Regions from separate parts of the Homo sapiens genome. Here regions 1 and 2 are each linked to region 3. Evidence: fine-mapped expression QTL. A gene starts in region 3. Each other region holds a variant in brackets. All regions are shown on one strand. Distances are from middle to middle.

Region 1 (10,527 bases), 34 kb before region 3:
GTGGGAGCTTAAAAAAAAATGAGTCTCATGGAGGTAGCGAGTAAAATGGTGGTTACCAGAGGCTGGGAAGGGTTGGGGGAAGCAGGAGATGAAGAGAAATTGGTTAATGGGTACAAAAATACAGTAAGATAGATGACATGATAATACAGTAGAGCAATTATAGTTAACAAGAATGTATTATATATTTCAAAATAGCTAGAAGAATGTTCCCAATGCAAGGAAATTATAAATGTTTGAGATGATGGATAACCCAACTACCCTGATTTTTGATCATTAGACTTTGTCTGCATTTATCAAAATATTACATGTACCACATAAATATGTATATTATGTATCAATTTTTTTAAAATATGGCATTAATTAATGCTTTGTTAATATTTTATTTGTACCATTATGTTCTTACTACAAGTAGTATTTATCCTACAGGGAACCATTAAGAAAAAGAATAACTTGCAACTGCAGTAACCTGTATAGTGGTAACTTAATGCTTTCTACTCAATTTATTCAACGAACATTACTACTAAGCAGCTACTTTGCACTAAGCACTCCACTATATCCCAGATAAATTATGGTGAGCAAAATGAAAGTCCCCCTCCTTTACAGAGAAAGTCTAGTGATGAAGACAAGACCAAACACAAAGAATATATAACATTGATGTCATAAATATAAATTACAAGCTGATTTGTGCTATGAAAAAAGATGAGGACAGGTAGGTAGACTTATCAGTCTACAAGAATGAGCCAAAAGACTTCAGGGCAGCATCATAATCTTAAATAATACATCTATCATAATCTTAAATAATACTATCATAATCTTAAATAATACTATCATAATCTTAAATACTCACATCTTGGACTTTCTGGATGAAAGGATCTTTCCATTCAAAGACCACAAAAAACAATTGAGCACTTTTTTTGGCAGCTGGCCTCTGGTCAATGTAGTTAACCACACTTGTCTAGATGTGGAGGAGAGAAAGCAGTGTTACCACCTCTGTGTGCCCTTCCCTTGCCTGTGCCCAGCGAAAGGAGAGAGAGTAGGCAGGGGATCATAGTCTGTGGTTCTCCTCACACTATTTTTTGGAGAGAGAGTGGCAAAAATCTCATATATACAAGATCCTGACATTGGTAGCAAAGCCAAGGCTTTACCTTGGTTTCCACAGTTCTCTGGGGAAATGGGATCTGTGATTTACAATAGGTGTTTTGGATTGTCACTGAAATTTGTCACTAGGTATCTGTACTCACAATTAAACCATATTCAGGCCAGGCATGTTGGCTCACGTCTGTAATCCCAACACTTTGTGAGGCCTAGCCAGGCAGATCACCTGAGGTCAGGAGTTTGAGACCAGCCTGGTCAACATGGTTAAGCCCTGTCTCTACTGAAAATACAAAAATTAGCCAGGTGTAGTGGTGGGCGCCTGCAATCCCAGCTACTCAGGAGGCTGAGGCAGGAGAATCGCTTGAATCTGGGAGGCAGAGGTTGCAGTGAGCCGAAATAGTGCCACTGCACTCTAGCCTGGGGGACAGAGCAAGACTCTGTCTCCAAAAAAAATAAAATATTAAAAATAAACCATATTCAAACTACCATGTAAGACTCACAATTAAAAGCAATAAAAATTCCAAATTTCAAAGTACTTGGTTTTCAGATCAAGTATTTCTCTGAATTTTCAACGCTTGTTTCAACCCTTCAAGTTTACAGGGACAAAGCACAGCTGCATAGATCCACACAGCTGAGCATTCCCTGTAAATACTTAGTAGGTGTGCTTGGTGAGATCTGGTTGTCAATTACTAAAGACGCTGTGTGGTGTAACGGAGAGCAGACAGGTAACAAAGGCAGAAACCAGCTCCACCCAGAGGCTCAGATCCATCATCGAAGCTGAGCCTCAGCTTTGCCACCCACAAAGCTGAACAAAATGCCTACGTCACTACAGTATAGGGGCATACCTATGTGAGAGCACTCTAAACTCTAAAATGTGATTTTAAAACACATTTTTTAGTTTTGTTCAAAAGAGCTCATAATGCCAACAAAAGACTTCCAATTTAGACAGTAATAAAAGATGCTAAAATTTCTTTAATGTACAGGTTCACTAGAGTTTTCACCCTTTGGTTTCGGATCACAGTGGGAGCTATCAGAAAATCCAGGGTAGATGGGGTTGAACTTAATTGTAAGGTAAGTGAACACAGTCTCCTTCCTCAGAGCTGCTGTGGGGCCAGATAAGAAAGGACTTGAATTTCTTGGAGCAAATTTGGAGGTAAAAATCTGGGAGATGACAGTTATCTTACAAAACAGGAAGATTTTAAGGTCCAGTCACCAGGAGGGGTTGTCACTTCCCAAGGCAGGAAAAATAGCCTTGCTTCCTTGAAGAAAACTGGCTTTGAGCCTCTTCCAAGTAACCAGCCTGGACTAGTCTGAGGAGCTAGGGCTCATGACAGGGCCCTGTTTAAGACTAACCCAAGACAGTCTTCTCCGGCCTAACTTCTGGCCAGTGATGGCCTAGTTGACTGGAGTGTGTCCTTCTGCTCCAGATGAGCATCCCGAGCCACTGGGATACAAGAAGAAAAGACTAGCTTTTTTTACTATTTATTTTTATCTCATCCTTTTAACATTTCTATTTTTGAATGTTTAAAGTGTATATAACACTAAGACAATAATAGTATGTTATATCACCTGCAGAGTTATATGTATATGGAGTATATGATCAAAAAGTTTTTACTAATGGGAAATCTGATCAAAAAGCTTTCAGCCCACTGGCCTAGCAGCCAGGAGATACACCTGGCATCTCTCGCTGTGACACCTGTGAGAGCTGAAGAGGACCTTAGGAAAAGGATCAACATGCACACTTGGGACCACTGTGTCTAGTCTCTCTTCCCTGCAAATAATCAATCTGCTAGGCCACTGCCAGCCCCTCAAAGTGCTGCTAGATGCAAGACATCAGACACAGCTGGGCGAGTTACTGACCTCTCTGCAAGCCACAATGATCTCTGCCCCACACATGCATTCCGTGAGGACTGGCCGGTATGTGCGCTGCCTGCAGAAGCACACACAGACTCCCTGGCATAGCATATGAAGCCCTCCATGGGAGTCCCTTCTCATCCTGACCAAGGCCTACTCACCCTTAAGGCCCTGCTCAAAGGAGCCTTCTCTGCAAAGCTTCCCTCCACCTCAGACTCGAATGTGGAAAAGTCACCAGCAGTTTCAAGCAAACCCAGAGCCACCTACCTCCTGCCGGAACTCCACTGCTTCCCGCCCATCCTCCTCCTTGGTCTTTACCAGTGACATCTTGACCCAGGTGCGGAAGCCCCCAGAGAACTTCCAGCTGGAATAGGCACTCTCACAGGCCTGCATGAAGCCTACCCTGTTTGGGCTTGGAGGAAGGAAGGAGAAGGAAGATCCAGGTCAATGCAGGTCTGGCAGCAGGAGTCGAAGCCCCCACTGCAAGCTGGTTTCTTTGCTGGCACAACCAGGATGCTGCCCACTCCCTGCCTCCTCTCCAAATTGTGATTGCCTCAACAGGGCTGTCAGTCACCAGCAAAAGCAAGGCCCATCCCTCTTTTCTCTCCATTTGGTTTCCAAATGGAGGGGTAGTCACTGGCCTCAAGGCAGGAACATGATCCTTGAAGCTCCCAGTGGGAGAAATCTTCCTCCCTCCTCCCATCATTCCTATCGATGGCTACCAAAGCTGTCGGCAATGAAGTTGGCAGAAGCTCCCCAGAACATGGCGCTCACAGCTCCTCAGAGAACTCTGGACTTCAGCAGAGCCTGAGGAAGCCCTCACCAGCCTGTCAGCTCCCATGGAAGGCCCAAAGAGGGGAAGAGGGTTCCTTGGGGAGGTCTCAGCCAGATGGGTCACCTACAGCATCAGCCCCAAGACGGTGCAGATGCAGCAAAATCAAAGCGAACATAAAAACAAGTAAAAACTGCAGCAGCATACCGAGGAAGCTCACGAAAGGAGCGTGGAGTGGGGGTGGGATCCCGGGGAAAGTCTTCCAGGAGGAAGGCAAGATGGCCAGCTTGAAGCAGGGAAGGGAGAGGGAATTCTAGGTGGCAGAAAGGGTGGAAAATGCTAAGGCAGAGGCTCCGAGCTCTGGGGTGGAAGAACAAAGCAGTGGTGGTGTGGAATGGAGGCAGCTCGCTGCATGTCCAGCTGGGGAGCAGCCTCCCTGCCCCTGTAGCTGCCTCCCTGCTTGCTCTGAATGGAGCCTCTGGGCTCAGCAGGACCTGGTAGGAACTGAGTCCCTCTCAACTCAGGCACATGAAGAAAATTCTCCTGCCCTCTAGGCTCCACGGTGTGACCCCAAAGCAGTGTGTGTGGAGCAGACAAGAACTTTCTGATGGTCAGGGGACATTCATCACTGTAAATCGAAGACTAAGAGAGGTGGCAGAGCTTATATCCTCATACCAGAGATGCAGTAGACCCTTGAACAACACAGGTTTGAACTGGCTGGGTCCACTCACGTGCGGATTTTCTTTTGCCTCTGCCACTCCTGAGACAGCAAGACCAAACCTCCTCCTCAGCCTACTCAACATGAAGGCGATGAGGATGAAGGCCTTTACAATGATCACTTCCACTGAATGAATAGTAAGTATATTTTCTCTTCCTTATGATTTCCTTTTTTTTTTTTTTGGAGTCTCGCTCTGTTGCCCAGGCTGGAGTGCAGTGGCGCAATCTCAGCTCACTGCAAACTCTGCCTCCTGGGTTCAATCGGTTCTCCTGCCTCAACCTCTTGAGTAGCTGGGACTACAGGTGCCCGCTACCACGCCTGGCTAATTTTTTGTATTTTTAGTAGAGATGGGGTTTCACCATGTTAGCCAGGATGGTCTCGATCTCCTGACCTCGTGATCCGCCCACCTTGGCCTCCCAAAGTGGTAGGATTACAGGTGTGAGCCACCACACCTGGCCATGATTTTCTTAATAACATTTTTTTTCTCTAGTTTACTTTATCGTAAGAATACAGTCTATGATATATATAACCACGCAATATGTGTTGTTTATGTTATTGGTAAGGCTTCTGTCAACAGTAGGCTGTTAGTAGTTTTGGGGGTCAAAAGTTATACACAAATTTTTGGCTGCATAGGCAGGAGTGGTTAAGTTTGGTAACCCCAAACCCCAAGTTGTTCAAGGACCAACTGTATTTCAGGCAAACATACATTAAGCCCGCACTAAGGGCAAGATGTGGTTCCTGTGCACACTGTGGGGGAAACCAAGGAACCACACAAGAACTTGCTCTCAAAGGGACTTACAAATCAAAGGCAACTTCCCCTACTCCTCAGCAGCCCCAGGCAATGGTGAGACCAAATGATCTCTCTAGAACCAGCCAGCACTATGTGCATGGAGAGCCAGCATGCTCCTCCACACCAGATTTGCTTAACTTTGTGATAAGATGTTGAGTGGACCGGCCAAGCTCATGAGGTCCCTTCCTGGGCCAGTGGGTCATCTGAGAATGCCCCTTCCCTTCCCTGCCCTCACCCCTCCGTCTCTAGCCTTGGGACATACACAGCTGGAATAAGATAAAAAGTAGACAGTAAGCCCACTGTGAACTCTAAAAGCCCACCTTTGC[AG/A]GAACTCCTGGAAAGAAGAGAAGAGGAGGTAATCAATGGCGCTGAAGTCCTCACTACTCTTGTTCAGGCGGAACTGGAGGAAGACCAGCTCCCGCTTTTTCACTTCCCGGGGCCCCTGGACAATCAGGGCAGATTTCTGCAGAGAGAAAAAGGACAGAGTCTCAGTCCTGGGAGAGTACACAGAGGCCTCTGGGTCTGAGGGCAGAAGTACTGACTGGAAAGCCCATAGCTCCTTGCCCAGTGGTCTCCAAAGGGACCACTAGCCAACAACAGGACTGGGCTGGGACTCATGCTCATTCCTGGGGAGTTTTCCCCATATGATGCCCAACCAGAGCTGAATGCAGCTCATCCTCTGTCCACTTTTCTCATTGGTTCTTTGAGTTATGGAAGCTCTTAATTTAGCAAGGATGATCACTTTCATCTGTTATGTGTGCCAATCTTTTCTTCCAGTCTGTCATTTTTCTTTTAACTTTGTTTCCAATGTCATTTGTCCTATGGAAACTTTAAATTTAACGTAGTAAAACCTTAAATCCTTTTCTTTACGGCTTTGGGTTTTGCTTGCTGAGGAAAGCCAAAATTATATCAATATTCTCCTCTATTTCTTTATAGCACTTTTTAATCTTTTTTACATTTAGATACTTTATATACCTGGCTTTAAGCTCTGTATATAGTGTGAAATAGGGCTCTAACTCCTACTTCCCAAACAATGCATAGAGACAGGTTTTGAAGCCTCTTCCCCTCCCTCCTTTATCCTATACTAAATTCCATGCAGAACCAATATCTATGTCTGCTTCTGGCCCTAGCAGAGCCCACACATTTGTCTGTCTCTGTCCAGTACTGTGCCACTTTGATTCCTGTGGTTTTTCCACTGTTCTGAGATCTGGGAAGGTGCTCTCCCTACTACTCTTCCCCATCCCCAAACTTGTCTTGGTTATTTTTGAACGTGTTCTAAGTATGCTTTAAGACTAGCTTGCTTAGTTCCACAAAAAAATTCACTGGGACTTTTAACTGTGATAGAAACTGAATTTATAGATTAATTTTAGAAAAAAATGTCTTTTACATCAACTTTTATAAATAAATGCTCTACAGAGATTTGAAAAAGAGTGAGTACACTGTCAGTTACAAAGTTTTGTGCCCCCACATGTATACACACACATACATACTCTAAATTTATTAACTGCACTATTCAATTCTTATCCTTTCTAGTTTTTGTCTATTTGATCTGTGAATTTCTGAGAGGGGTGTTTAAATCGTGCTCTAAAGTGATGGTATTTTTTACTTCTAACGGGTTTTGCTTAAAATATATAAATGTCATGCTGTTTTGTACATAAAGTTTTGGAACTGTTCAGTCGTCTTAGTGGAGAGTATGGAGTTGAACCTCTTATCAATATTAAACATCCTTCTTGCAAACTTTTGCACGTGGAATTCCACACTATTAATATTGTCACTTCTGGTTTTCGTTGCATCTTCTCAAGACAGCTTTGTCCATCTATTTATTTTTCAACCTTTCTGTACCATTTTGTTTTAAGTGTGCAACAGAAAGCACTGTCCCTGGTTTCTATTATCCATTTCTTCCTTTAGTACTAGAATGGCTTTCCCAACCCAGATTTCAGCAGAATCCACTCCCCCTGCTGGAGCCTCATCTCTGCCCTCAAATGTAGCCACGTGATAAAGTTCCTAATGTGCGAAAGAAAAGGGGACTCATTCAACTCCACCCCATTTCCTGAAAAGGGAACTGCTTGCCCTCCACCTTCCCAGGCCTGGGCATGTGCACAGACACACACACACACACTGCACACACACACACACACACACACACACACACACAGCCCACATGGACCAGAACAATGCCCAGGGGACAGCACAGTGACACACACACACACACACACACACACTGCCCACATGGACCAGAACAATGCCCAGGGGACAGCACAGTGACAAGACAAAAGTCATGGCTGGACTATCCTATGAGGCAGTACTGCCCACTACGCCACACGGCCTGCATGCCAGGACTGTTCTCAGAGAGAGAAGGAGGCTTCTCCCTCATCTCAGCCATTGTATTTGCAGGTTTTGTTTTTATTTGGTAGCTTAGCCTATACTCTGACTAATACACAATTTGTTAGCTGACACTGGAGTGTTCTTGTTTTTTTTTTTTGAGACGGTGTCTCGCTCTGTTGCCCAAGCTGGAGTGCACTGGCGTGATCTCGGCTCACTGCAAGCTCCGCCTCCCGGGTTCAGGCGATTCTCCTGTCTTGCCCTCCCAAGTAGCTGGGACTACAGGCACGTGCCACTACACACGCCTGATTTTTTTATTTTTATTTTTAGTAGAGACGGGGTTTCACCATGTTAGCCAGGATGGTCTCGATCTCCTGACCTCGTGATCCACCTGCCTCGGCCTCCCAAAGTGCTGGATTACAGGCATGAGCCACCACGCCCGGCTGGAGTGTTTTATGGTTGCAAAAAAAATCAAAATGAGGGAACAGCCAAACATTTGGGCAGTGGGAAAATGGCGGGCAGTAAGGAAATAGATAAGGATCCCGCAGGCTGGAAAGGTGGCAAACCTTATTGTGCCAGAGCAGAGCATTTGGTAAAAAATAACTACCATTAAATTGAGAGCATGAAAGAAAGCACCAGAAAATCAGCAAAATTCCGAAGATTTTACAAATACAACAGGATGAGACCCTCGACTGGGGTCACTTTCACATGAACTTGATTAGATGCGAACAGCCAGAAGCCTACACATTTCTGAAATCTCACTGCAAACATAGGCAGTGGCAGGAGGCAGGTAAGAAGCCGCCCTCCAAGTTTGCAATTGTTTAGCCCTAAAGCTGCTCACACAAGCAGGAAGTGAGTGGCACAAGCTGTGCAGCCACCAGGGAGGGCGTATTTTCTAATGTCCACTTCAGATATGGCCACAGAGCATTACCACCAAGGCAGAAGCTCCCAGGGGACGAGGCCAGAGCACACAGGAGTCTCTTTCTGAGGGCAGCAACAGGTTCAAACCAAGGAGCTTACTTCATGCCAAGAAGGCGTCTCACCGGTCCCACCCTGCAGGGTTCCACCACTGCTGCAGAGCAGAGCTGCGGGCCCTTCCCCTTCTTCCTTTTCCAAATGGGAGCTCTACTGCTCTCATCATATTCTTCCTCCACTGCTATATGCTGGTTTGGGTAGGAAACTTGGTGGATAGGGAGGAGATAACTTCTCTGTTAGTTTATAGCTTGTGGACTTCAAGAAATTGATGGAGGAGATGAACCAACACTCAGACTTGGGGGCAGTAGCTGCATTCAACTTCATTTCCATAAAAACAACTCTCTCTTTGTGCCCTTATTTCAAGGGTTTTTACACTCTTTAGTCGAATTATGTAACTATTGTAACAAGTGCAACTGGCCTACACAGGTTTGGAAATGACCCTCACTGACTCCTCCTAAGCATACACTTCAACTGGGGGAGGAGAGGAGGGCATCCAGAGAATAGGCACCTAGTGGGACGGAAGCAGCCACGAGTTTTCATTAGCGTGTTTTACAGAGAGATGAAGGGAGCTGGGAATCCAGACAAAGAGCTTCTATTATACATATAACTCCACATTGGAATTGTTTAAAAGTTGCTTTCCTTTTTGTTTTAATTAGCTTCTACTTCCCTATTCTAGAGTCCATTCTATTTGTTCATCTTGGTCCTTTTCTGTCATTGGTTTCATGCAAATGTCTGGTGACCATTAATTCTCCATTCTTATTTATGAATGAAGGATTAGGTTGACTAGTATAGGTCTGGGTTTTGGTTTCTTCCAAAGTAGTAAATTTCTGTTTCTCTAATAGGCCTCTCCCTTGCATGGGAAAGCTAAGTATGCTCTGTGGAAGCACACTGAGTTTTCCAGTGTGTTTTACTCTGGGAAGAGTCCTTTCCTTTAGTTCTCTCTCCTTTTCCATTGTAGAAGTCTGCTCTGTTTCCTATGCCTACACAAAGAATCATCTTCCCTTCGCTTCTGTAGAGAATGGTTCCAGGGTCTTTTACCCAGAGGCAACCATCCCCAGCGGCTCTGCATACCTGGGGAGGGTATAGGGTGTGTCTGGCCCAGCCAACAGGCAGTCCAGTAATGACTACCCTGCTCTCTAACGGTGCTGATTCCAAGCTGGGGGTTTGGAAGGAAAGCTTGTACCTCTACAACAGGTCTCTCCTTCATCTGTTTTGGGTTAGGGATTTGCTCTAATTTGTTTGCTCCACCAATCTGGCCCAAGCTGTTTTTTATGCTTTATACCAGTTCCTCAAAATGTCTGGTCCACTGGTGATATCCTTTCTTCACGTGCAAAGCTATTATTGATGTTCTAGTCTGTTCTATCTCATTCCTTAGAGAATCATTTTAGCAGGATTTTAGGAGGGGGCCTAGCGTTCACATACTAACAAAAAAAAAATTAGTGTTATTCTTTCATCTTAAAACCCACTAACAGTTCCCTGTTACCCAAGGGAGCAAGTGTGGCTCTACAGCACGATGCATGTTCTTTTCTCATCTGGCCATTACTCTGTCCACAGCTTCATCACCCATCAGTCTTCCAGGGCTCCTGACCCTATGAAACATTTCCCCACCAACTGCAATTGTGCCCAGAGGCACAAGTACAACATGTCGTCTCTTCCCTTTAGGTCATGGTGCAATTTCCTCTGCCTAGAAAACCTTTCCTTCCCAATTTCATCTGGAAAACTATTGTAGCCCCTTTCAATGCTTTCTGAAGCAAGAATATGAAATGAAAAAGATGAGATGTAAATCAATACAAAACGCCTACCCTGTCTTTGAAACCCTGTGCAGTGCCACTCCTCCAGGGCGCTCCTAACCCCATCCCTCAGTCATCCTTCCCAGCCGTGCTGTGTTGTGCACGACAGCATGGCCAGCCCAGGGCCCAGGAGTCCTTGTCCCCAGACCGACGCTCCTTTACGCTGGCGTATTAATTTCAAACTATGGATTCTCAGGCCCCACCTAAGGAA
Region 2 (10,527 bases), 140 kb before region 3:
AAGTGATTTTCATGCCTCAGCCTCCCAAGTAGCTGGGACTACAGGTGCATGCTGCCACGCCCAGCTAATTTTTTTGTTATTTTTAGTAGAGACAGGGTTTCACCATGTTGGCTAGGCTGGTCTCAAACTCCTGGCCTCAAGTGATCCTCCTGCCTCGGCCTCCCAAAGTGCTGGGATTACAGGCATGGGCCAATGTGCCTAACCTGTCTTTTTCTCTTTTCTTCTAGTTTTCATCCTCTCTGCCATATGGATAGTTACTGTTGCTATATGTTCAAGTCCACTGATCTTTTCTTCTTCATTACTTAAGCTGCTGTTAAGCCCATTCAATAAATGTTTTATTTCAGATATTGTACTTTTCAGCTCTAGAAATTCCATTGTATTCTGTTTTATAGTTGCAATTTTGCTCAACATTTTTATGTTTTCCTTTAAATTCTTAAACATATTGACAATAGCTTTTTTTATAGTTCTTGTTACCCAATTGCATATTCTTCTATTATTTCTGGGTCTGTTTCTGTTAACTGATTTTTTTTCTCTCGTTTATGAACCACATTTTCCTTCTTCTTTGGATATCTAGTAATTTTTGATTGGATGTTGGATACTGGATTTCTATATGGCTTGGTGTCTGGTCAAAACTAGCAGATCAGTTTGATCTTTTTTGATGCTTGCTTTTAAGATTGGTTAGGGAAGGTCTAGAGTAGCCTTTACTTTAGGGCTAGTTTTGCCCTACTGCATATACATGAAGCCCTTCTGGGGTCTTTTCTGAATGCCACAGGGGTTCAACAAGGTCTCTCCATTCTCCCTGGTTGGAACTAGAATGTTTCCCAGCCCAGTGGGAGCTCAGGAAATTGTTTAGCTTACAGCTCCCTAAGAGTTTTTTTAGTTATTTATTTTTGCCCAGTGTCATGGAGTTGCATGGACTCAAGGGGGCTCAAGATTTCTGGAGCTCTTTCTCTGCATACCTCTGTCTTCTCTGGTATTCTGCCTCACAAATTCCAGCCTCCTCAGTCTCCTCAAACTCTGATCTTTTTTGTCCTCCTCATAGCAAGATTGTCATGTCTACTTGGGTCCCCTTCTTTGTGGTCTGGAAAGTGCCTCCAGGCAGAAAGCCAGGAATATTGTAGGGATCTTTTCATTTCTTTCTCTTTTCTCAGGGATCACAATTCCTCACTGTGTATTGTCCAATGAAAACAACTGTTTCATACATTATGGCCAATTTTCTAGTTGTTACCGGTGAGAGGGCAAGTCAAATTCCAGTTAATTTTCATGTCTGGAAGTTGAAGTTTCTTCATAGCAATCAGTTTTTGCACTGCTGGAATTGTTCTTGATAAGTCAATACAGGTATTTTCCAGAGAAGTCCAAGTGTCTTCTCTTTCTTTCTTCCCTGCTGCTACTGACAGATTACTTCCTAGTCTATGCTTTTTCCCCTCAAGCATCTAAGGAATTACATTTCCCTTGTTTTGTTACAGCAACCCATCTGTTCCTCTAGCTTTCCTCTGCTGGTGCTACTTCAGTGTCACTTTTCCTGTGATGGGTAATCTCTGGGGGTAGTGCTTGAGGCTCTCCATTATTCAGCTCCTTTTGGGGATTCCTACTTTGGTGCATGAGGCTTTGCAGTCATCTGCTGGCTGGATCAAGTGCATGCTGAAAAAGACTTGCTCCATATTCAATTTCCCCTTTTGTAAGTGCCCAAATATCAGCTCAAGCTCATCATTTCTAAAATATATAGACCCTACTTTCCTCATTCCAAAATTAAAAAAATATATATTATACATACACATCATTTCCTACATACAAACTGTAGAGAATAATATAATAAACATATATCAATCCAACATCTAGCTGAAAAAAAAAAAGCATTCAGATATAGCCGAAACCCTCAGTGTATCCCTCTCATTTATATTTTCCTTCCTGCCTTCCTTCTAGGAAGTAACCAGTTTTCGAATTTGGTGTTTTCAATTCCCATTATATATACAGGAATGTTTCGGAATATATACATATATATATAAAATTGTGTGTGCATGCATACATTTACATGCACTATATATCCCTAAACAATAAAAAGTATTTTACATGTTTTTAGCTCCACTCATTCTTCCATCCAGGGTTATAGCTTTTCTGAGCTTCTGTGTCTGAATGCAACAGACAAAACAAAGAGACACTCAACAGGACTCTTTGCCAGGGGCTAAGCGTTTTCCCAGTAGAGTGGTTATCTTACGGGGGTGGGGAGAAAAAGGAGCCAGTACAACTGCTTGACTCAATATACAGCCATGATCCTCTTAGGAGAAGGGCAATTCTGGCTACAGCAAGAGTTTGCCATTTGGTTTTGTTGCCTGAACTCATGGCAGAATTCTGGGAAGAACAAAAGGGTTACAAGGAAGAACTAACTGTGCAACTACTACTGATGCTACCACCGCCTCAAGTACCATCACATCTGTCTCACATGCCCATTATGAGTCAGGAACTGTTGTAAGTGTTTTTCAAAGCATTATCTTCTGATTACCAAAACAGTCCTCAGAGTAAAGAAACTAAGGCTACAAAGAACCTTAACCATACCTTTTTCCTGAATATCAGACCCTCATTCCAAGTGTTAATGAGCATCTTTATTCAGAGAGTGCACAGACATGTTAAACACATGTCTAAAATTTTGCCCTGCCTGTAGCTTCTACCCTCTTTTCCTCCCAGTTAACAGATGTGAGATTAAACCTCTTAGATCAAAGTCTAATCAATTGCTGTCCTGCCCCAAAGTCTTCAATAGCTTCCCATTACTTGAAGAATTAAGTACAAACTCCTCACCCTGGCATTTAAAGTCCTCTGCAGTAGGTCCCCGACCTATGTTCCTAGCTTTATCTCCTACTTTTTTCCTATACCGCAGCCAAACCAAACTATTTGCTGTTCTCCAAATATGCCACACATATTCCTCTCTCTGTGACCTTGCTCATGCTGTTTCCCTTACCTGAATGTTCTTCTCCTTTCCCCTACCTAGCTACCCACTGAAATTCTGTGCAATTTTCAAAGTCAATTTTAACCTTCCAGCTGCTCCTCTGTGTCCCTTGTTCTTCATTCTCCAATCATAACATTATTTTTCCTCCTTTAGCCCCAATTGCATTTTGTTGATACATCTTTTCTCTTCTTGAATTATACAGTGATTCTCTGTGTGCTTGACTTTTCTTCATCATGAAACTGTAAACTCCAAGAGAGCACAATCTGTGTCCTCCTCAACTTTGCTTCCCTAGCACCCAGAAGGATATAGTGCTGTATTAAATCATTGGATTGATGTAGTACTTTCTCTCTTAAGGCCACTATGCAAATAATTCACACTGAAACATGCCCAATGTGTATAAGGACTGAAATTGCATCTTTCAGTCTGAAGGGCTAAGGTCATTCTCCAGTCCTAGCCCATATCCTTGACCCAAAGTAAGCTGAGAAACAATCACTGTAATTCAGCGTGACGGAGTGGGACTTATCTGCTGAGTGTAAGAAGAGGCCTTAACTAATCAAGAAGTTGGGAAAGCTGGAAGACTTTGCACAGATCTTGCCTGAAACTAGGAGGAGGTGTTCAGTTGGTAAATTGATTTTTTTCTTCCTCTATAAAGGCATCATAAAAAAGATCTAGGTATAGTTTTGCTTAGAAGGTGGTTAAGAATTTAGAATGCAGGGTGAGTGTGTGTGTGTGTGTCTTGTGTGTGTGCACATGGTGAGCCCAGAGTGACGGCTGCATTGTTCCTGATCTTTGGCCCACAGCCACAGCAGATACAAGGGGTTGCCCTGGGCCTGGTCCTCTCCTGTGCAGTTCTACTGACTGTTTGGCACTGGAGAATGCAGAGGCACATGACAGGCCATCTTTTGCCCATTTGTTTCTGTCATGATTTTTTTTCCTTAAAGAGGAAAAAGAGGCTTGTGTTGTTTGTGTAATTTCCTTCTTTGCTTTGGCCTACACTAGGCTGTCAGCCCATTCTAGTCGTCTTCTTTCTCCAAATTAATATACAACATGTCATCACCTCTTTTTAAAAATAAAGATCCAGCTCTTCAGCTTCAACGACCTTAAAAAGCTCTTTTAACTCAACATTTCTAACCTCAGACTCAATGTTTGCTTCTCTTTCCCTTCCTTCCTCTGACACCCCTCTCTACCTCCTCCCACAAAAGAAAACTGGATCAGCTACTGGACTTTTGTTAAAGGCCCCCAATTTATTTGGTCACCCAATTCAAAACCTTGGCATCATTTGTAATTTTCCTCTTTGACTTGCCACCTCCCTCCTCCACCTTTAGTCAAATCTTTCCAGTGTAGTATTCTTTTGTAGTATCTCTCACATCTATTCCTAAGGCCATTTTTAGTTCAAGCCACTCATCACCAAGAAATGGAGGATAGGATAGGGGGAGGGGACTGGAGTATCACTTGGGATTTTTTTGAAACTACACGTTTTGCCTCTTCTACCCCAAGATTCTCATGTCCACTGGGGGGCCAGGAAGTTATAGCTTGGAAAAGCTCCATGGGTGCCACTGACACACACTGCTTAGCACCACTCATTCAAGCCCTGGCTGCCTGGACACCTGTAATCATCTCCAGCCAATCTCTTTGGCTTCCATTGCCTTCACCTGGTGATCTTAAAACACTACTTCAACATGACATCTTCTATTCAAATAGTCTCCAGCATCTCCCCACTGACTTCAGAATCAGGTCCAAACTTGCTGACACTCCATAATCTGATACTATCTTCTTTCTCTGCAGTGTCCTCAAGTAAGGGTACCCCAGGGTTTTTTTTTTGTTTTGTTTTGTTTTGTTTTGTTTTGGGGGGGATGGAGTCTCACTCTGTCACCCAGGCTGGAGTGCAGTGGCGCGATCTCGGCTCACTGCAAGCTCTGCCTCCCGGGTTCACACCATTCTCCTGCCTCAGCCTCCTGAGTAGCTGGGACTACAGGTGCCCGCCACCATGCCTGGCTAATTTTTTTGTATTTTTTAGTAGAGACGGGGTTTCACCATGTTAGCCAGGATGGTCTCGATCTCCTGACCTCATGATGCACCCACCTCGGCCTCCCAAAGTGCTGGGGTTACAGGCGTGAGCCACTGCGCCCAGCAACCCCAGGGGTTTTCTCACCCTCTTTCCTTATTCTATACACTCCACCCAGGAGAACAAGGGTATTCTTAGAGTTCCATCTCCTATCTGTATACTGATGACTACCAGATCTCTACCTTCAGTACAGATCTCTTTCCTGCAAGCCTGTACTATCCAACTGCTTATTCTCAAAGTGTCCAACTTATTACGTCCACCTCTTCCTCCCTTCCCTGTCTCACTACATGGCATTGCTGCCCACCAGTCACTCAGTCTGGATACCTGGGAATCACCCTTTCCTCTTCTGTGTCCCATACCCTTATCCATGCCCAATAAGTCACTAAGTCATTTTATTTATTTACAATATCTCCTGAGTCTGATCTTGCCATTCCATCTCAGATGCCTGACACAGAGTCTTACTATTTGTCTTCTGGCCCACAGGTCTCCCTTTCTCTGGCCTTGCCCTCTGTAATGAGTTCATCCTCCACACTGCCAACAGTGTAATTTTTCTAGAATGCAAATCTGATCATGCCACTCTCCTGCTTATTAAAATCCTTCAGTGTCTCCCCACTGACTTGAGGATAATGCCCAATAACTGCACACAAAGCCCTTCATGACCCACTCTGCCCTCCTTAATAGACACACAGCTTCTGCCCACTGAAGAAAGCTTATACCAAATTCCTTTGGTTTCCAGATGTAGCCCCTTCTCTCAGGGTTCTGCACCTTATAAGTTATATTTCCACTGCTTGGAATGATTTCCTTTTTTTTTTTTTTTGTCTTCCTAATTCCTTCTGGTTTTTCAATTCTCAGATCTAGAGCATCTTCCTCTAGAAAGCCTTTCTTGCTCTCCACGCCAGAGATTCTGTACTTTCTCCTCTGTGCTTACCTCTGTTACAGCATTTATGAGACTATCTGTGGTGGGTATGGGGTTTGGAGGGCTTTTTCTTTCCCTCTCCAGACTCTCTGAAAGAAGGAATTGTATTTTTTTTCCTTTCTATACCCAGAACCTAGACCAGAAAACGGCCAATAATAAACACTGAACGTTTGTTGAATAAGTAAATAATTGTACCTTTTCCAGCTTTCCCTCCCACTGTTCCCTCCAAAAAGCATCTTCTCCAGTCAATACATCTTTTAACCTCCCATCTACATACTTGTTCTTTCCACTTCCACA[C/A]CTCGATGTCATTTCTCTCTTTGTTGACTGGTGGACAGCAATATAGTGAGACAGAGAGGGGAGGAGGAGGTCAACATAATAAGTTGGAAACTTGGAGTTTAAGAGGCATGCAGTAAGCAGTTGGATAGTGCTTTCCCTTATCTCTTATCTTTTTCTCTATTTATGTAATTATACCTGAACCTCCAGGTCAAGCTTGAATTCCGTCTTCTCCACCTGAGCACAAATACCACCTATGACCTCCCTCCAAATGTACCATCTTGGCTCTCATCAAATAGTGTTCTGAATGAGAAGTTATCTTTTTGTGAATGCATGCCTCATCTCATCTCTCCCCTAGAGCTTGTGCTCTCTTAGGGTAGAGGCCACAATGTTTAGCCATGGGCCTTGCTAATAATAGGCCTTGAATAAATGTGTTGCTGCGTGTTTAGTTCATAGAGTGACTAACCATCCTGGTTTGCCCAAAAGTGAGGGGGTTCCTGGGACACTGGATTTTCAGTACTAGAACTGGGAAAGTCTCTAGCAAACCAGGATGAGTTGGTCACCCTAGAGGTTCTCCTAAGCAGCTTTGAAGGTCTGTGTGTGTAGTCACATGGTGTTTCCTCTGGTGCATATTCCCTGCTTTGTTTCCACCGTTGGACTTTAATTGATGTGAGCTTTCACCATTGGAGACAAGCTCCATGCAGGCTGACTTCGTCTCATTTACCACTATACTCCAAGCACCTGGAACAGGCCAGGCTCATTATAAGAAGTTAATTAATGATTTTTGAGTGAATGAAAAGAAAACATTAAGCACCATTACATCTCTTGATAATCTCATTTTCCTTCTAGGTAGTAGGCTCCAAAGTTCCATAAACACAAAATTTTTAAAGTGCTAGGCAAGAACAATGATCTTATGCTAATCCATTCTAATTTCATTTTTTTGTAAATGTTTTTATACAGAGTTAATAAACAGAGCCTTGAATTTCCACTGATTTTTATAAGAATGGAGAACTCCAGAGATGCTAGAATACAAAAAATTGCTCCTGAAAATGGAAGAAGTCACCAAGACCAAACTCCCAAGGGAAAAGACAGGAGTGTCACATAGATGAAAGAGACTTTAAGGGGGGATCTCATTTGATCTCTTTCTGCCAGATTCTTTATATGAATGGTGCCTAGCATATAGTAGGTGTTAAATTTATGGTAGAGATGATATGTTTGTTTTATTTTGAGACAGAGTCTCGCTCTGTCCCCCAGGCTGGAGTACAGTGGTGCGATCTCAGCTCACTGCAACCTCCGCCTCCTGGGTTCAAGTGATTCTCCTGCCTCAGCCTCCCAAGTAGCTGGGACTACAGGTGCCCACCACCACGCCCAGCTAATTTTTGTATTTTTAGTAGAGGTGGGGTTTCACTATGTTGCCGAGGCTGGTCTCAAACTCCTGACCTCAGGTGATCCACCCACCTTGGCCTCCCAAAGTGCTGGGATCACAGATGTGAGACACTGCACCTAGCCAAGATTATATTTACACTTACCTACAGACACACAAATTTTTGAAAAAGCCATATTGTTTGCATAGAAGTCAAAGCATAGGGTCTGAAAACATTAATTTCCAATTTAATAATTCCTGAAAAACTCTTAGTACTACCAGTATTATCAAATTGTAGACAACACCTTACATAGAAGATAACAGTGAGTTTGTAGGATTTTCAAAGTAATTTGATCCAAAATAGTAAGCCAATGAGAGAGAATACATTGCTGACATTCAGCAGCTAGGTATTTTAAGACAGGGACTGCCTCAAAACCTACTTGATGCTGACACAGAGTCTTACTATTTGTCTTCTGGCCCACAGGTCTCCCTTTCTCTGGCCTTGCCCTCTGTAATCAGTTCATCCTCCATACTGCCAACAATGTAATTTTTCTAGAATGCAAATCTGATCATGCCACTCTCCTGCTTATTAAAATCCTTCAGTGTCTCCCCACTGACTTGAGGATGAAACCCAATAACTGCACACAAAGCCCTTCATGACCCACTCTGCCCTCCTCAATAGATGCAGCTTCTGCCCACCGAAGAAAGCTTATACCAAATTCCTTTGGTTTCCAGATGTAGCCCCTTCTCTCAGGGTTCTGCACCTTATAAGTTATATTCCTACTGCTTGGAATGATTTCCTTTTTTTTTTTGTCTTCAGATGGATGAAAGCAGAAGACCACTTATATATTTACATAAAATATGCATAGTAGAGGAACATGAAGGAACCATATAGTACTTTTGCAATCATTGCTTTTTATGATATACCCAGAGGACAGTTATGTGTTGAAGTTAATCTCTACTTTTTCTTTGCTCATCCACTTCCAGGTCAAATTCTGATACAAGGTGTGGCATAATATATTCTCCTCTTGCAATGAAATTTTACTTTTTGGTAATAGTTGTGTGGAATAAGTAAATTCATTGAGATACAGAAATCTTCATAGTGATGGAGAAATGTGGTAAGCTAATTTCTGAATGGCAGGCATTTTTCTTCTTTTTTTGGTCTTCTCCATATGATAATTTTGTTTTGTTTCTTTTCTTTTCTTTTTTTTTTTTTTGAGATGGAGTTTTGCTCTTGTTGCCCAGGCTGAAGTGCAATGGCGTGATCTCGGCTCACTGCAACCTCCGCCTCCCGGGTTCAAGCGATTCTCCTGTCTCAGCCTCCCAAGTAGCTGGGATTACAGGCACATGCCACCACGCCCGGATAATTTTTATATTTTTAGCAGAGACGGGTTTTACCATGTTGGTCAGGCTGGTCTCGAACTCCTGACCTCAGGTGATCTGCATGCCTTGGCCTCCCAAAGTGCTGGGATTACAGGTAAGAGCCACTATGCCTGGCCTTTGTTTTGTTTCAAGACTGGTTTCAAACATTACTTTTTCTGTTAAATTTTCTCTTTCTTTCCAAACCAAATTAGATCCTATATTTCACTGTTTTGCCACACCATAAAAAATATTTCTGATAATTGTTTGTTCATTTGTTTATGTTGTCCCTCCTCACTAGATTGATTTTAAGGCCCATCCTTATCTACCTCTTCATTCCTAGTGACTGGCATATTGCCTGACAAACAGAAGGCACTTGGAAAGTGTTTGCAGGGTTGAATTAAAGTGTGGAGAGTTTGCTAACATCAGGTTCTTTCGTCCCACTCTGCAAGGGCAAGGGTATATTGGCATGAGTTGAGCCCCTTCAAACTATGTCCTGGTTCCTCATCTATACAGGTAAAGAAATGGGTAGACAAGGGGCTATTGAACATTTATGATTACAGCCCATTTAGATGGGGCAAAAGATTTCATAGTTATGGAAAGATGATTCAGTGATAATCAGAAAGTATAAATACAGGAGCAGGTTTTCGGGGATTAATAATACCTCTGCTGTATCAACAGCCCACATTCAGTCTATCTGCAAATCCTATATACTCCTCGTCCAAAATAAATCTCCAGTCTAGCCATCTCTACTGCCACTGGCCTAGTCTAAGCTCCTGGTTGACCAACACAATAGCCTGTACAATAGCCCACAACAAATGAGGTGAATCATAATAAGCTTAACTAAAAGAAGTTTAAAGTTAAAAAGCAAAAATGGCAGCAATTGAAAATCATGATGTCTAATCATATCAGTATGTTCTTGTGCTTGCAAAATGGCCAGATAGACAATATGGAATTAGAATTCTTTAAAAAGATCTAGAAAAGTAGATAGTAAAATGGTTACTCTAGTAAAGCAGATTAATAGATCTACCCTCTTACTTAGTTACCTTTTTGTGACAAGAGCAGCTATGATCTACTTATTTAACAAAAAACGCCTAATATAATACAATTTTTATTAACTTTCCTCCTACATTAGATCTCTAAACTTATTCATCTTACATACATGCTGTTTTGTATCCTTTGACCTACACCTCCCTGTTTCCTCTTCCTCACTGCATCCCACTGTTTCATTCTCTGTGTATTTGAACTCCTTTTTTTTTTTTTTAAAATCTACACATAAATGAGATCATGCAATATTTTTCTGTATCTGGCTTATTTCATTTAGCATAATGTCCTCTAGGTCCATCCATGTTGTGGCAAATAGCAGGATCTCCTCTTAGAGGGCTGAATAACATTCCATTATATATATATTATATATATAAAATGTGTCTGTATAATGCATATAATGCATGTGTATATATATATTATATATATAAATAATATCCCATTATACACACACACGTACATACCATTTTCTTTATATTTTCGTCTATTGATGGACATTTAGGTTGTTTCCATGTATTCCCTATTGTGCATAATGCTGCACTTAACATTGGGAATGCACATATCTT
Region 3 (10,527 bases):
GCAGAACCACATTAGTTCCTGTCTTGTTCCCCTCTCCCACAAACAGATGGGATCCATCCAAGAAGTTGAAGTCAGGCTGGGGCTTCATTCATTCACTCAACAAATCTTTATGGCGTGGTCAAGGCTAGGCTGGTGAGCAAAACAGACTGGTCTCTGCCCTCAGGGAGTTTCATTCTAGTAGAACAGGGGTCCCCAACCCCCAGGCCACAGACCAATACGGGTCCATGGCCTGTTAGGAACTGGGCCAATACAGTAGGAGGTGAGCAGTGAGTGAGCATTACCACCTGAGCTCCACCTCCTGTCAGATCAGCTGCAGCATTAGATTCTCATAGGAGTGCAAATCCTATTGTAAGCTGCACATACAAGGGATCTAGGTTGTGTGCTCCTTATGAAAATCTAACTATGTCTGATAATCTGAGGTGGAACAGTTTCATCTTGAAACCATCCCCCAACCTCCATCTGTGGAAAAATTGTCTTCCACAAACCGGTCCCTGGTGCCAAAAAGTTGGGGACTGCTGTAGTAGAACAGACAGACATTAGTCAGACAAACAAACGCACCATTCCAACAGCAATAGCCGGAAAGGAGAGGCGCGTGGACTATGAGACGGTGCTGGAGGGTGGGAGGTAATCTGGCCAGAAGGTTAGAGAAGGCTCTGTGGAAAAAAATGAGTGAGCTGAAAGCTGAAGAATGATTAGGCATTAACTATGTGAAGAAGGAAAGTGAATTCCAGGCAGAGAAATAAAACAACAAAAAGGCCCTGTGGTGAGAGGGAATGAGGCCTAAAATAAAAAAAGATCAGCATGGCTGAGGGCCAGAGAAAAAGGGGATGAGAGGAAGGAAGGAATGGAGAACTACTCTGAAGTTCAACTGCGTTAAGTGGTAGTACCATTCCTGCAAACAGGAAATACTGGGAGAGGACCAAGCTGGGACTGAGATGATCATGAGGTCAATTTTGGACATGTGGAGTTGAGGGAAGCTTTGGGAGATCCAAGCAGAACTATGACATGGGCAGTTGGAAATACAGGATATATAAATTTGCGGTTTGTAGGTAACCTCTGGGCTAGAGATGTAAACATGGGAGTCACGTGTGAGCAAGCAGTGGCTGAAGCAAGGGAGCAGGCCTGGGTAGAACTGTCTATGAGAGTGAGAGAAAGGGGCCTGCAACCAACATTTCATGCCCAAGAGCTGGAGAGTGACCGCAATGGAGCCTGGAAGGAGTGGCCTGAGAAATGCTGCATCACAGAAGCTAAGGGAGCAGCGTGTATCCGGGCGGAAGAAGTAGTCAGCAGTGTCAAACATTGCCGTAGGGCTCCATAAGATGCCAACTGACTGATGGGACCCTGCTTACCCAACTGAGCAGCATTACTGGACAGGCCTAGTATCTGAAAGAGGGGGCCTATTAGATCTTCTTTGACCCGGATATTAGAGGCTCACCTGCTAGCAGTTTCCAGGGAAAGAGGAACAGAAGAGCAGAGATCCAAAGCATTTGCCATTGTATGCAATGACCTGACCTCAGGAAGTGGCTCAAATTGGAGTTAAGAGCAGATACCAGCCTAGACATATCCTCTGTTCCAAGGCTGGTTAAATATGTATGGCTTTAAAACTAGGGCAATACTTGAGACCTGACACCAGGGTGCAGGGAAGGGGGCTCCTCCTCTCCCACAGTTGGCAAGGCGCCTAGACTGGGGTGTCCAGCTGCAGCAACAGCACAGCAAAGCACCAAACGCACTCACCTGGTAAGATACCCGGACCTTGGACTCTGACCGTCTCCTTGTCCTGCTCGTCTGCCAGCTCTGAGTTCTCAACCACCTGGACCAACTCCTCACTCAGCTAAAGGGAGAAGCAAAGAGAGCAAAGACAAGTCAGCTATGTCAGCCTTGCTTTTCTACACTAGAATAAGAAAGCAGAAGCTGCTTGTCACTTAATTGTCACCAAAAACCACATGACATAGAGTGTGTTACAGCAATTTTACAGATGAGGACACCGAAGCTCAGAAAGCTCAATAAACTTTCTGCTCTCTGTGTTCCTAGGACTACTGTAGCAAGTACCACAAACCGAACAGCTTAAAACAACGGAAATGTCTTCTCTCACAGTTCTGGAGGCTAGAAGTCTGAAATTGAGGTGTTGGCAGGGTTGGCTCCTTCTTCTACGAGTGGTGAGGAAATCTGTTCCATGCCTCTCTCCTGGCTTCTGGTGACAGCCAGCAATCCTTGGAGTTCGTTGGCTCGTAGAGGCATCCAATCTCCACTCTCCGCTGCCATCTTTACAAGGTGTGCTCTCTCTGTGTCTTCACATGGTCATCGTCTTGAAGGACACCAGCCATGTTGGATTAGGGGCCCACCCTACTCCTGTATGACCTCATCTTCACTAATTACACCTGCAATGACCCCATTTCCAAACAAGGTCACAATCTGAGGTACCTGGGGTTAGGACTTCAACATATCTTTTTTAAGGAAACACAATTCAACCCACAATATTTTCCATGGCCATAAAGCCAGGGAAAGATATGGCAGGAGTAAAATCCAAGTTGGTCTAGTTCCAAAGCCCATAGTCTTAACCACTTCCCAAAGGAAGAGGAAATACGGCTTAGAGTCTGCTGAGAGAAAAGAGGGAACAGTGAAGGTGGTGTCAGAGCTCTCTCTGGCACTCTGGCTGAAGTCCACTGACTTGGGCTGCAAATGGCAGAACACAGCAGGAAGGGCAGGCAGTCCACCACAGGGATAGGTGCTGATTATAATCAGCAGCCTGGTAGCCAGCAACCTCAACCTCACTTCACCAGTGGTCTCACCTGTCAAATGGGGAAAATTATACCACTGAGAAGGGAAGAAGGACGGAAAGGATACCATGATAATCAACAAGTCTCTGTAGGATTAAGGAGGAGGGCAAGAGAGCTCAAGACCAGAGCTTAGAAGAGAAGCCATCCCTGAATTGGGAGGGAGAGGGGACAGCTTTCCCAAGCACTTTGTCAGGTTCACAGCATCAGTGTTTAAGGTTTTAAGGTTTCTAGACATTTTCATTAAAAACTCACCTCCAAGAGACAAGTGAAAAACATCTCTTACGAATCTATTCTTCTATCTCCCTCTCCACGACTCCACTCCTGCCCCTTAGAATCAGGCAAAATCTCCAGTTTAAAGCCCTCGAAGCACAAAAGAAAAGGCCAGGTGCGGGGCCTGACACGGTGGCTCATGCCTGTAATTCCAGCACTTTGGGAGGCCGAGGTGGGCGGATCGCCTGAGGTCAGGAGTTCGAGACCTGCCTGGTCAACATGGTGAAACCCCATCTCTACTAAAAATACAAAAATTAGCCGGGCATAATAGCGCACACCTGTAGTCCCAGCTACTTGGGAGGTTGAAGCAGGAGAATCTCTTGAACCCGGGAGGCGGAGGTTGTAGTGAGCCGAGATCGCACCATTGCACTCCAGTCTGAGTGACAAGAGTGAAACTCAGTCTCAAAAAAAAAAAAGAAAGAAAAGAAAAGCAACCAGTGGGAAAGGGCAGGGAGGCTGGTGAAGGCACCAAGAGATATAAGCCACTAGCAGGAGCACAGATAAAGAGGTCTCACTGGCCAAAGGGAGAGGAGGATGTTAGTCCTGGGAAATCTCAAAGTTCCCTGATTCAAGCCTCACTCAGGTTCACCCTGACCCAGGTGCTAACACCCTCCCACCAGGTTCCCTTCCTGACTACCCACAGCCATAATGAGCCTGCCTCCTTGCCTGCCCCTGGCCAAATTCTCAGTATATCCCACCCTCCCCAAGGAAAAATCCCCCCTCAGCAAATAAACCTACTCAGAGCTAGGTACACTCACAGAATGGTTCAGGAAGAAAGACGCCGGCCATTTTCTGGGTGGCCCCATTCTCTGAGGAAGTGAGAGACAGGGACTCCAGAACAGGCCTCTGAAGAAGGCAAGGGGAGGGCACCCTTCCAGTGCCTCCCACTTTGGAGATGCCTCCAAAGAGAAACTGAGTCTACCCTGGGCCTTGGCCCTCCAAGCGGGGTAAGTGCCTATATTTTAATAAACATTTTATAAGCCCTGCTAGGCTGGCTATGTGTGGATGGTGAGGCACATGTTCCTGCTAAGCCAGGACCCCAAAGCATCCTGGACGCAGGAGCTGCCCACACCGTTAACAAGAGCTATCATTCACTGTGGGGTCACCATTTGCCAGACACTGAGCCAAGCGCTTTCCACACCAACTTATCTAATCCCCAAACAACCCTGGGAGGTAGGGACTTTTATTATCTTCATCTTTCAGACAAAGAAACTGAGGCTCAGAAAGTTATGTGACTCAATAAAAGTCACACAAACAGCAAGAGGCACAGCCAGGCACGAACGTGGGCTTTCTGACTTTTATCCACTGTGCTCCACACCCTATAAACCTAAAAACTTTCAGACACATCTCATTCCCCAGGATTCCCCCACTGTTTAGGGTACAGAATCTAGGGGTCATGGAATCCACAGCACTGGTTAAAATCCCTCAGACTCCTTTCAGACAAAGGAAACAGATGGAATAAAGGGGATGGGAGGAGAAATATAGAAATCTGTCCAAGGCCAGATTCCAGCCAAGATCCTACACTAAAAAATGGCAAGCCTTAGGCAAATCTCATCTGCCTTCAAGTTGGCTTCTCCCTCCACTGTAGGGCTAAGCCACCTGCTTTATATAGTCCACAAAGCCCTTCTGTGAATCAGTCTTTTACAAAGGGAGATATGTACAGCAGTAACTATTGACTAAGACAGAAGGCAGCAAGTTCATTATGAGAAGGACAGACAGAAATGCAGACGGGTCTGGAAAGCGGACCCCTATGGAACACATGGAACTTGAGGTAGCCCTTGACTTCTGGGGGCATTTTACCCAATGGAGCTTGGCGGAGCGTTGATGAAGGAATGGAGTGAGCACACGCACAGAGGCAGGAGCACATTTTAAAACTGAGTTTCCACTGTGCCAGACCCTAGGTGGGTTAGGAGGTGGCAAAGGTAATGGGAGACATGGCTGCTGTGCTGTTCAGAGCTTTGGGAGCCTGCTGAGAAGTCTGGACTGTTCTGGGCAGACGAAGGGCAGCGTCAGGTCTGAGAAAAAAGGAATGCTCCGAGGTGAAGGCAGGGCCTCAAGGCAAATCTGGAGAGTATAAGAGACTAAAGGGAGCGATGGTAACACAGTATCGCACTCAGAGGTTACAGCAAACACAGGGACACAAACTGGAGGAGGACCGACCTGGAACTGCCTGACTTTGGCCAATGAGGCGGCACGATGGAGGGGCACAGAAGAGGACGGTTGCCAAAGATGACCAAGGTTTGGGGGCCGAGAAGTGGAGGCGGAGGAGGAGAGCAGTTTCACTAATACAGCTGGAGAAGTGAGGAGGCAGGGCTTGCTTGAAGGAAGCGCTGGACGCACAGCCTGCAGCGCAGGACAGAGAAGAGACAAAGAACTGGAAAGTGATAAAGTCGTGGGAGGAGGTGAGACTGGAGGGAGAGACGAAGAGGAGCGAGAACTAGCAGAGTCCATGAAGGCACTTTTTCAAAGTTAGGTGGTCACCAAAAAACAGGTAATCAATCCTGTCACCAGCCGCGGGGACAGCGAGGCCTTGGGCTTGGAGGGGGAGGATGCCGACGATGCCGACCGCGCATCAGATCTCGCCGGGAGGAGGGCGCGGGCGCTCCACTTGTTGCAAAGAACGCCGGGTTCCTCTGGGCCATTGGGCTGCCGCTCCGGCGGGGAGCGCGGAAGGCTGGGCCTCAGGTAGCTTCAATCATTCACCTGCTGGTTACGGGTCGCGGCGCCGGGGACCCTACTCCGGACCTCGGCCATGCAACCCGCAGCATACGGAGAACGCTGGGCGCCCGCTCCGCTGCCCCGCTTCCTTCCTGCCCCTGGGCCGCTCCTCTGCACCCCGGGAGCCCTCCCCTGACGCACCCGTCGGTCCCTCGGAAGAGCCCTCTGCCGCGCAGCCCCGACACCCCCCGCCCCGCATCCGCCCAGGCCCCCGGGACCCTGCTCCTCCGCCTCAAACTTCCCTTCCGTCTCTCACAACCTCGTACCTCCTGGTAGGATGTGGAGCGCTCCTGCCGGATCATGGCACTGACCAGAGCTTCGGCACACCTGAGACCGCCCCAGCCCGCGGCGCACGGACGCAGCACTGCGGCCGCTGCACCTGGACCTACCGGCTCCGCGAGGCGAAACCGGTCCGGAGGGGCGTCCCAGAGACCAGGCGTGGCGATACTCGGCGCATGCGCCTGGCCGCTGCCGCCCAGGAGTCGCGAAAGTGTTGATGGGAAATGTAGTTCTGGGCGGGGGCGCCCCTCACACCAGCTCTCACCCCTGTGGCGGAGGCCTGCATGTGACCCTGGGCCAGCTAAGCTGGTCCTTAGACGCGTGCCTCTGCGTCTCTCACTTCCTCTCTTTGTTGGAGGGGGAGGGACGGAGAAGAGGAGTGGAAAGTGGAACAAAGTCAGATGAGTAGGAGCCCCTAATCTATAATTGCAAGAGGAAGCTTGGCCTGGCGGTTTAAAACGGTAATAAATGTCTGGAGAGCACTTTGTATGTTAGTTACAAAGCGCTCTCACTCACATTATGCCGTTGATTCTGCAAGGAACCCTGTAAGAAGGACATTTTTCTCCCTAATTTACAAATGAGGAAACTGAGGTACTTTGTTTCAGAAAGGATGCGGGTGGAGCGGTAATCAAATGAAGATTATTTCATCCAGGGGTAGACTGCGGAGCCCATGTTCTCTCCATTATTCCAGGGGCAGGAGTACCCCTAGGTTCTTGTCCTGGCTCTGACCCTCCCCTTTAGGTCTTGCAATGCTCTGAGCCCTCCTCTCCTCGCCTTAGAATGCAACTGCTAAACCCTGCCCTGCCTGACAAGGCCTATGAAAGCAGAAAGGAAGGATCGTGCAGAGAAAGCCTAAAGCCGCTGTTCAGCCACAGAAGAAGCCTCAAGCGCTAGATGTGGCGTCAAATCTGGTGTTGGCCCTGTGGCAGGGTGGACCTGAAGACCACATCTTCCTCTCCTCCCACTGCCTGAAACAGCTGTTGTGTGAGGGCCCTCGGCTCCTCAGTGGTGAAGCAGATAGAGGCTGCTTGTTGTGCCTTGGTGAATGCTGCTCTGTGTCCCTTGCAGCTGCAGCTTGGTAACCCCTCCACTCAGGCCACTGGGAGCCTCTTCTCTCCTCAGTGATAAGCAGAATAGTGCCAGCCACATCAAAGAACCCTGGACCTCCTGGAGCATTAGCAATGGGAGGTCCCCATCACCTCTCCTGACCACTCACCCCTATCCTAGGCCCTCTGCTCTTAAATCTGTTATATGGGACAATATATATAGTGCCTAACACATTGTAGGCACTCGACAAATGTTTGTTAAATTTATGAATGGAACACTGATTCCAGCCATTTCATTTAACAGTTGCTTACCAAAACAAATTAACAATAGCAGACCACTAATTAAATTCCTTACTGTGTTAATACAATGGTACTTGATAGAACAAGTTCACACCATCATAGAATATTAGAGCTGGAAGGAACCAGAGAATTCTATTCCAACCCTGTCATTCCTCTCTAGTCTTTGTTGGTGTGACCAAACTGGAAAATTATGGGCTCCCACATTTGAAGGAGATACTGGCTAATAAAATATAAAATATGGCTTAACAAATACAATGTGCTGGGCACTGGGATACAGAAATGGATAAGATACCCTTGGGTCCTGGCTTTCGTGGCTCTTTCATGCAACTGTGGAGAGACAGATCATAAACATGTAAATAATGTTCTGTCCTTGCAGCCCCCAAGTCCTCTCTCCCATTCCTTCATGAGCACACACCAGTCAGGCTTTACTCCCCTCCACTCCACTGGAACAGTGCTTGTCAAGGTCACAAGTGACCTCAGTGTTGTCACATCAGATGGCCATTTTCCCATCCTCCTCTTTCTTGATTTATCAGCCACAGTGGACTTGGCTGATCCTCCCTCCTCCTTGATACGCGTTCCTCCCTGGCTTCCAGGACACCACACACTCCCGGCTTGCTCCTACCTCACTTTGAAGCCATCCTCACAGGGTTAACACGAATTCTGCACAGAAATAGAGTTATAATTAAGCATTAATCAGGCTGTAATTTGACCCACTTCCTTGTAGCCAAAAGTCATGTAGCACTAGATACTGACCATTTGCATCTCCACTGCTCCTACAGGTAGGATTTCTGACATTGGAATCATAAGGCTTTTGCTTAAGAATTGTTTAAGGCCAGGCCCAGTGGCTCACGCCTGTAATCCCAACTCTTTAGGAGGCCGAGGCGGGCGGATTGCCTGAGGTCAGGAGTTCGAGACCAGCCTGGCCAACATGGTAAAACTTCATCTTTACTAAAAATACAAAAATTAACCAGGCATGGTGGCGGGCACCTATAATCCCAGCCTCCCTAGCCTCCCTACTCAGGAGGCTGAGGCAGGAGAATCGCTTGAACCCGGGAGGCAGAGGTTGCAGTGAGCCAAGATCACACCATTGCACTCCAGCCTGGGCGACAATAGCAAAATTCTGTCTCAAAAAAAAAAATTGCTTAAAATGTTTTTCAGATCACAAATTCCAGTGAAACAGCTGACACCAACAAGTTTGAAGACACCAACAGAGGAATGGAATCAGCATGAGAATACAGCTGCTTCTCTCTCTGTCCAATGATTTCACCCTGTTCCCTTTGGCCAATCAGCAGTCTCCACACTTCAGCCTACTCCTTAAAAACCCTTAGAAAAGCCGCAAACTCCTTGAGAGAGGGTTTGAGGTTCCCCTCCATCTCCTCGATTGGAGGCCCTATTGGTAAGCCTCTTTTTCTACTGCAACTCCGTCTTGGCATATTGACTTGCTGCACACATCAGGCAACAGGCCTATTACAGTTACAGTTACTGCTCTTTCTCAGCCTCTCTGCTGACTTCTCCTCATCTCAGCTCTACAGGGCGGACTTTCCCAAAGCTAGGTTTGTTGTTGTTGTTTTGGTTTTTTTTAGATGGAGTCTCGCTCTGTCACCCAGGGTGGAGTGCAGTGCGGCAATCTTGGTTCACTGTAACCTCTGCCTCCCGGGCTCAAGTGATTCTCCTGCCTCAGCCTTCCAAATAGCTGGGATTACAGGTGCCTGCCACCATGCCTGGCTAAAATTTTCATATTTTTAGTAGAGACGGGGTTTCGTCATGTTGGCCAGGCTGGTCTCAATCTCCTGACCTCAAGTGATCTGTCTACCTCAGCCTCCCAAAGTGCTGGGGGAATTATAGGCGAGAACCACCACGCCCAGCCCCAAAGCTAGATTTTCCACCTCCTTTCTATTCACTCCGTAGGGGCTAGTGAAGTGGTCACCTCTAGCCTCATGGCTTGAATTATCATCTATACCCTAAAGATTCCTGCTATAATTGACTTGTGTTCCCCCAAAATATGTTGAGGACCTAGACCTCAGTACCTCAGAATGTGACCTTAGATGGAAATAGGGTCATTGCAGATGTAACTAGGATGAGGTCATATTGGAGTAAGGTGATCTCTCAGTCCAATATGACTCGTCCTTATAAAAAGGTGGAAGACATGGGCCAGGGTGGTAGGATGCTAATATATCTGGGGGATGTCAAGAGAGGCCTCCTGATGGCAGTTACTTTTGAGTTGAGACCTAAATGACAAGAAGGGACTAGCACATGATGGTCTGTGCGGGTACAGGCAGAAGGCACAGGTACAGTACACAGGCCCTAGGCTGAAGCCAAGCAGAAGGCAGTGTCAGTGGAGAGGACCACTAGGGGCATGTAGTGTAACCACCTGATGGGTTCTTCCTGCCTGCTGTATAGACAATATCAATTCACTGAGACCATGGCATTGCAGTAAAGAAAGAGTTTAACTGACTGAGGCCACAGGGAGACAGAGTTATTACACAAATCAATCTCCCCAAGCATTTGGGGGCCAGGGGTTTTCAAAGGTAGTTTGTGGGATAGGATAGGGGTGGGTGCTTGCTATTGATTGGTTGGGGTTGCAATCACAGGGGTGTGGGAAATGGTCCTCCAGTGCACTTAGTCACTGCTGGGTGGGGGCCACAGGAGTGATTGGTGGGTCCAGGTGGAGCCATCAGTGTCGGACATGCAAAAAACCCGAAAAGACATTTCAAAAAGCCAAGCTGAGGTTCTACGATAGTGACGTTATCTGCAGGAGTAATTGGGGAAGTTGCAATGTCTTGTGACCTCTAGAATAATGGCTGGCAATCATTTACATGTATACCTTAGCAGGAGGCATTTTCAGGAGTCAGGGCAAGGGAGAAGCCAGGGCTTTTTTTTCCCTGTTCTCTGCCTCTCACAGTTTCCCTTCCATGGCTCCAGCCCCTGATACAAAGGCTTTTTGTGGTCCTAGCTTCAGCCAGGTGACTCAGGCCCTTAGACTCTAATAAACACCACTGTTGCCTGGCGTGGTGGCTCACGCCTGTAATCCCAGCACTTTGGGAGGCTGAAGCGGGTGGATCACCTGAGGTCGGGAGTTTGAAGCCAGCCTGACCAACATGGAGAAACCCTGTCTCTACTAAAAATACAAAGAATTA

The links. PIP is the estimated chance that this variant, and not a neighbour inherited with it, causes the effect.
Region 1: its variant is fine-mapped to the expression of PACC1 in whole blood (TOPMed, PIP above 0.99).
Region 2: its variant is fine-mapped to the expression of PACC1 in cerebellar hemisphere (GTEx, PIP 0.90).

What each region holds. Positions count from the first base shown.
Region 1 is chr1:212,374,346-212,384,872 of GRCh38, forward strand. It overlaps PACC1 (proton activated chloride channel 1), which reads right to left. Exons shown (of 8, transcript NM_018252.3): 5 at 5,550-5,692; 6 at 3,217-3,361; 7 at 848-955. Among named protein-coding and RNA genes, the nearest start is that of SNORA16B, 27 kb to the left of the region's middle. The variant AG/A (reference allele first, on the strand shown) is at 5,556.
Region 2 is chr1:212,268,565-212,279,091 of GRCh38, forward strand. All of the region lies in intron 1 of LINC02608 (long intergenic non-protein coding RNA 2608), which reads right to left. Among named protein-coding and RNA genes, the nearest start is that of LINC02608, 11 kb to the right of the region's middle. The variant C/A (reference allele first, on the strand shown) is at 6,220.
Region 3 is chr1:212,408,691-212,419,217 of GRCh38, forward strand. It overlaps PACC1 (proton activated chloride channel 1), which reads right to left and starts at 6,196. Exons shown (of 8, transcript NM_018252.3): 1 at 6,032-6,196; 2 at 1,735-1,831. The coding sequence starts at 6,067. RefSeq lists a silencer at 5,848-5,907.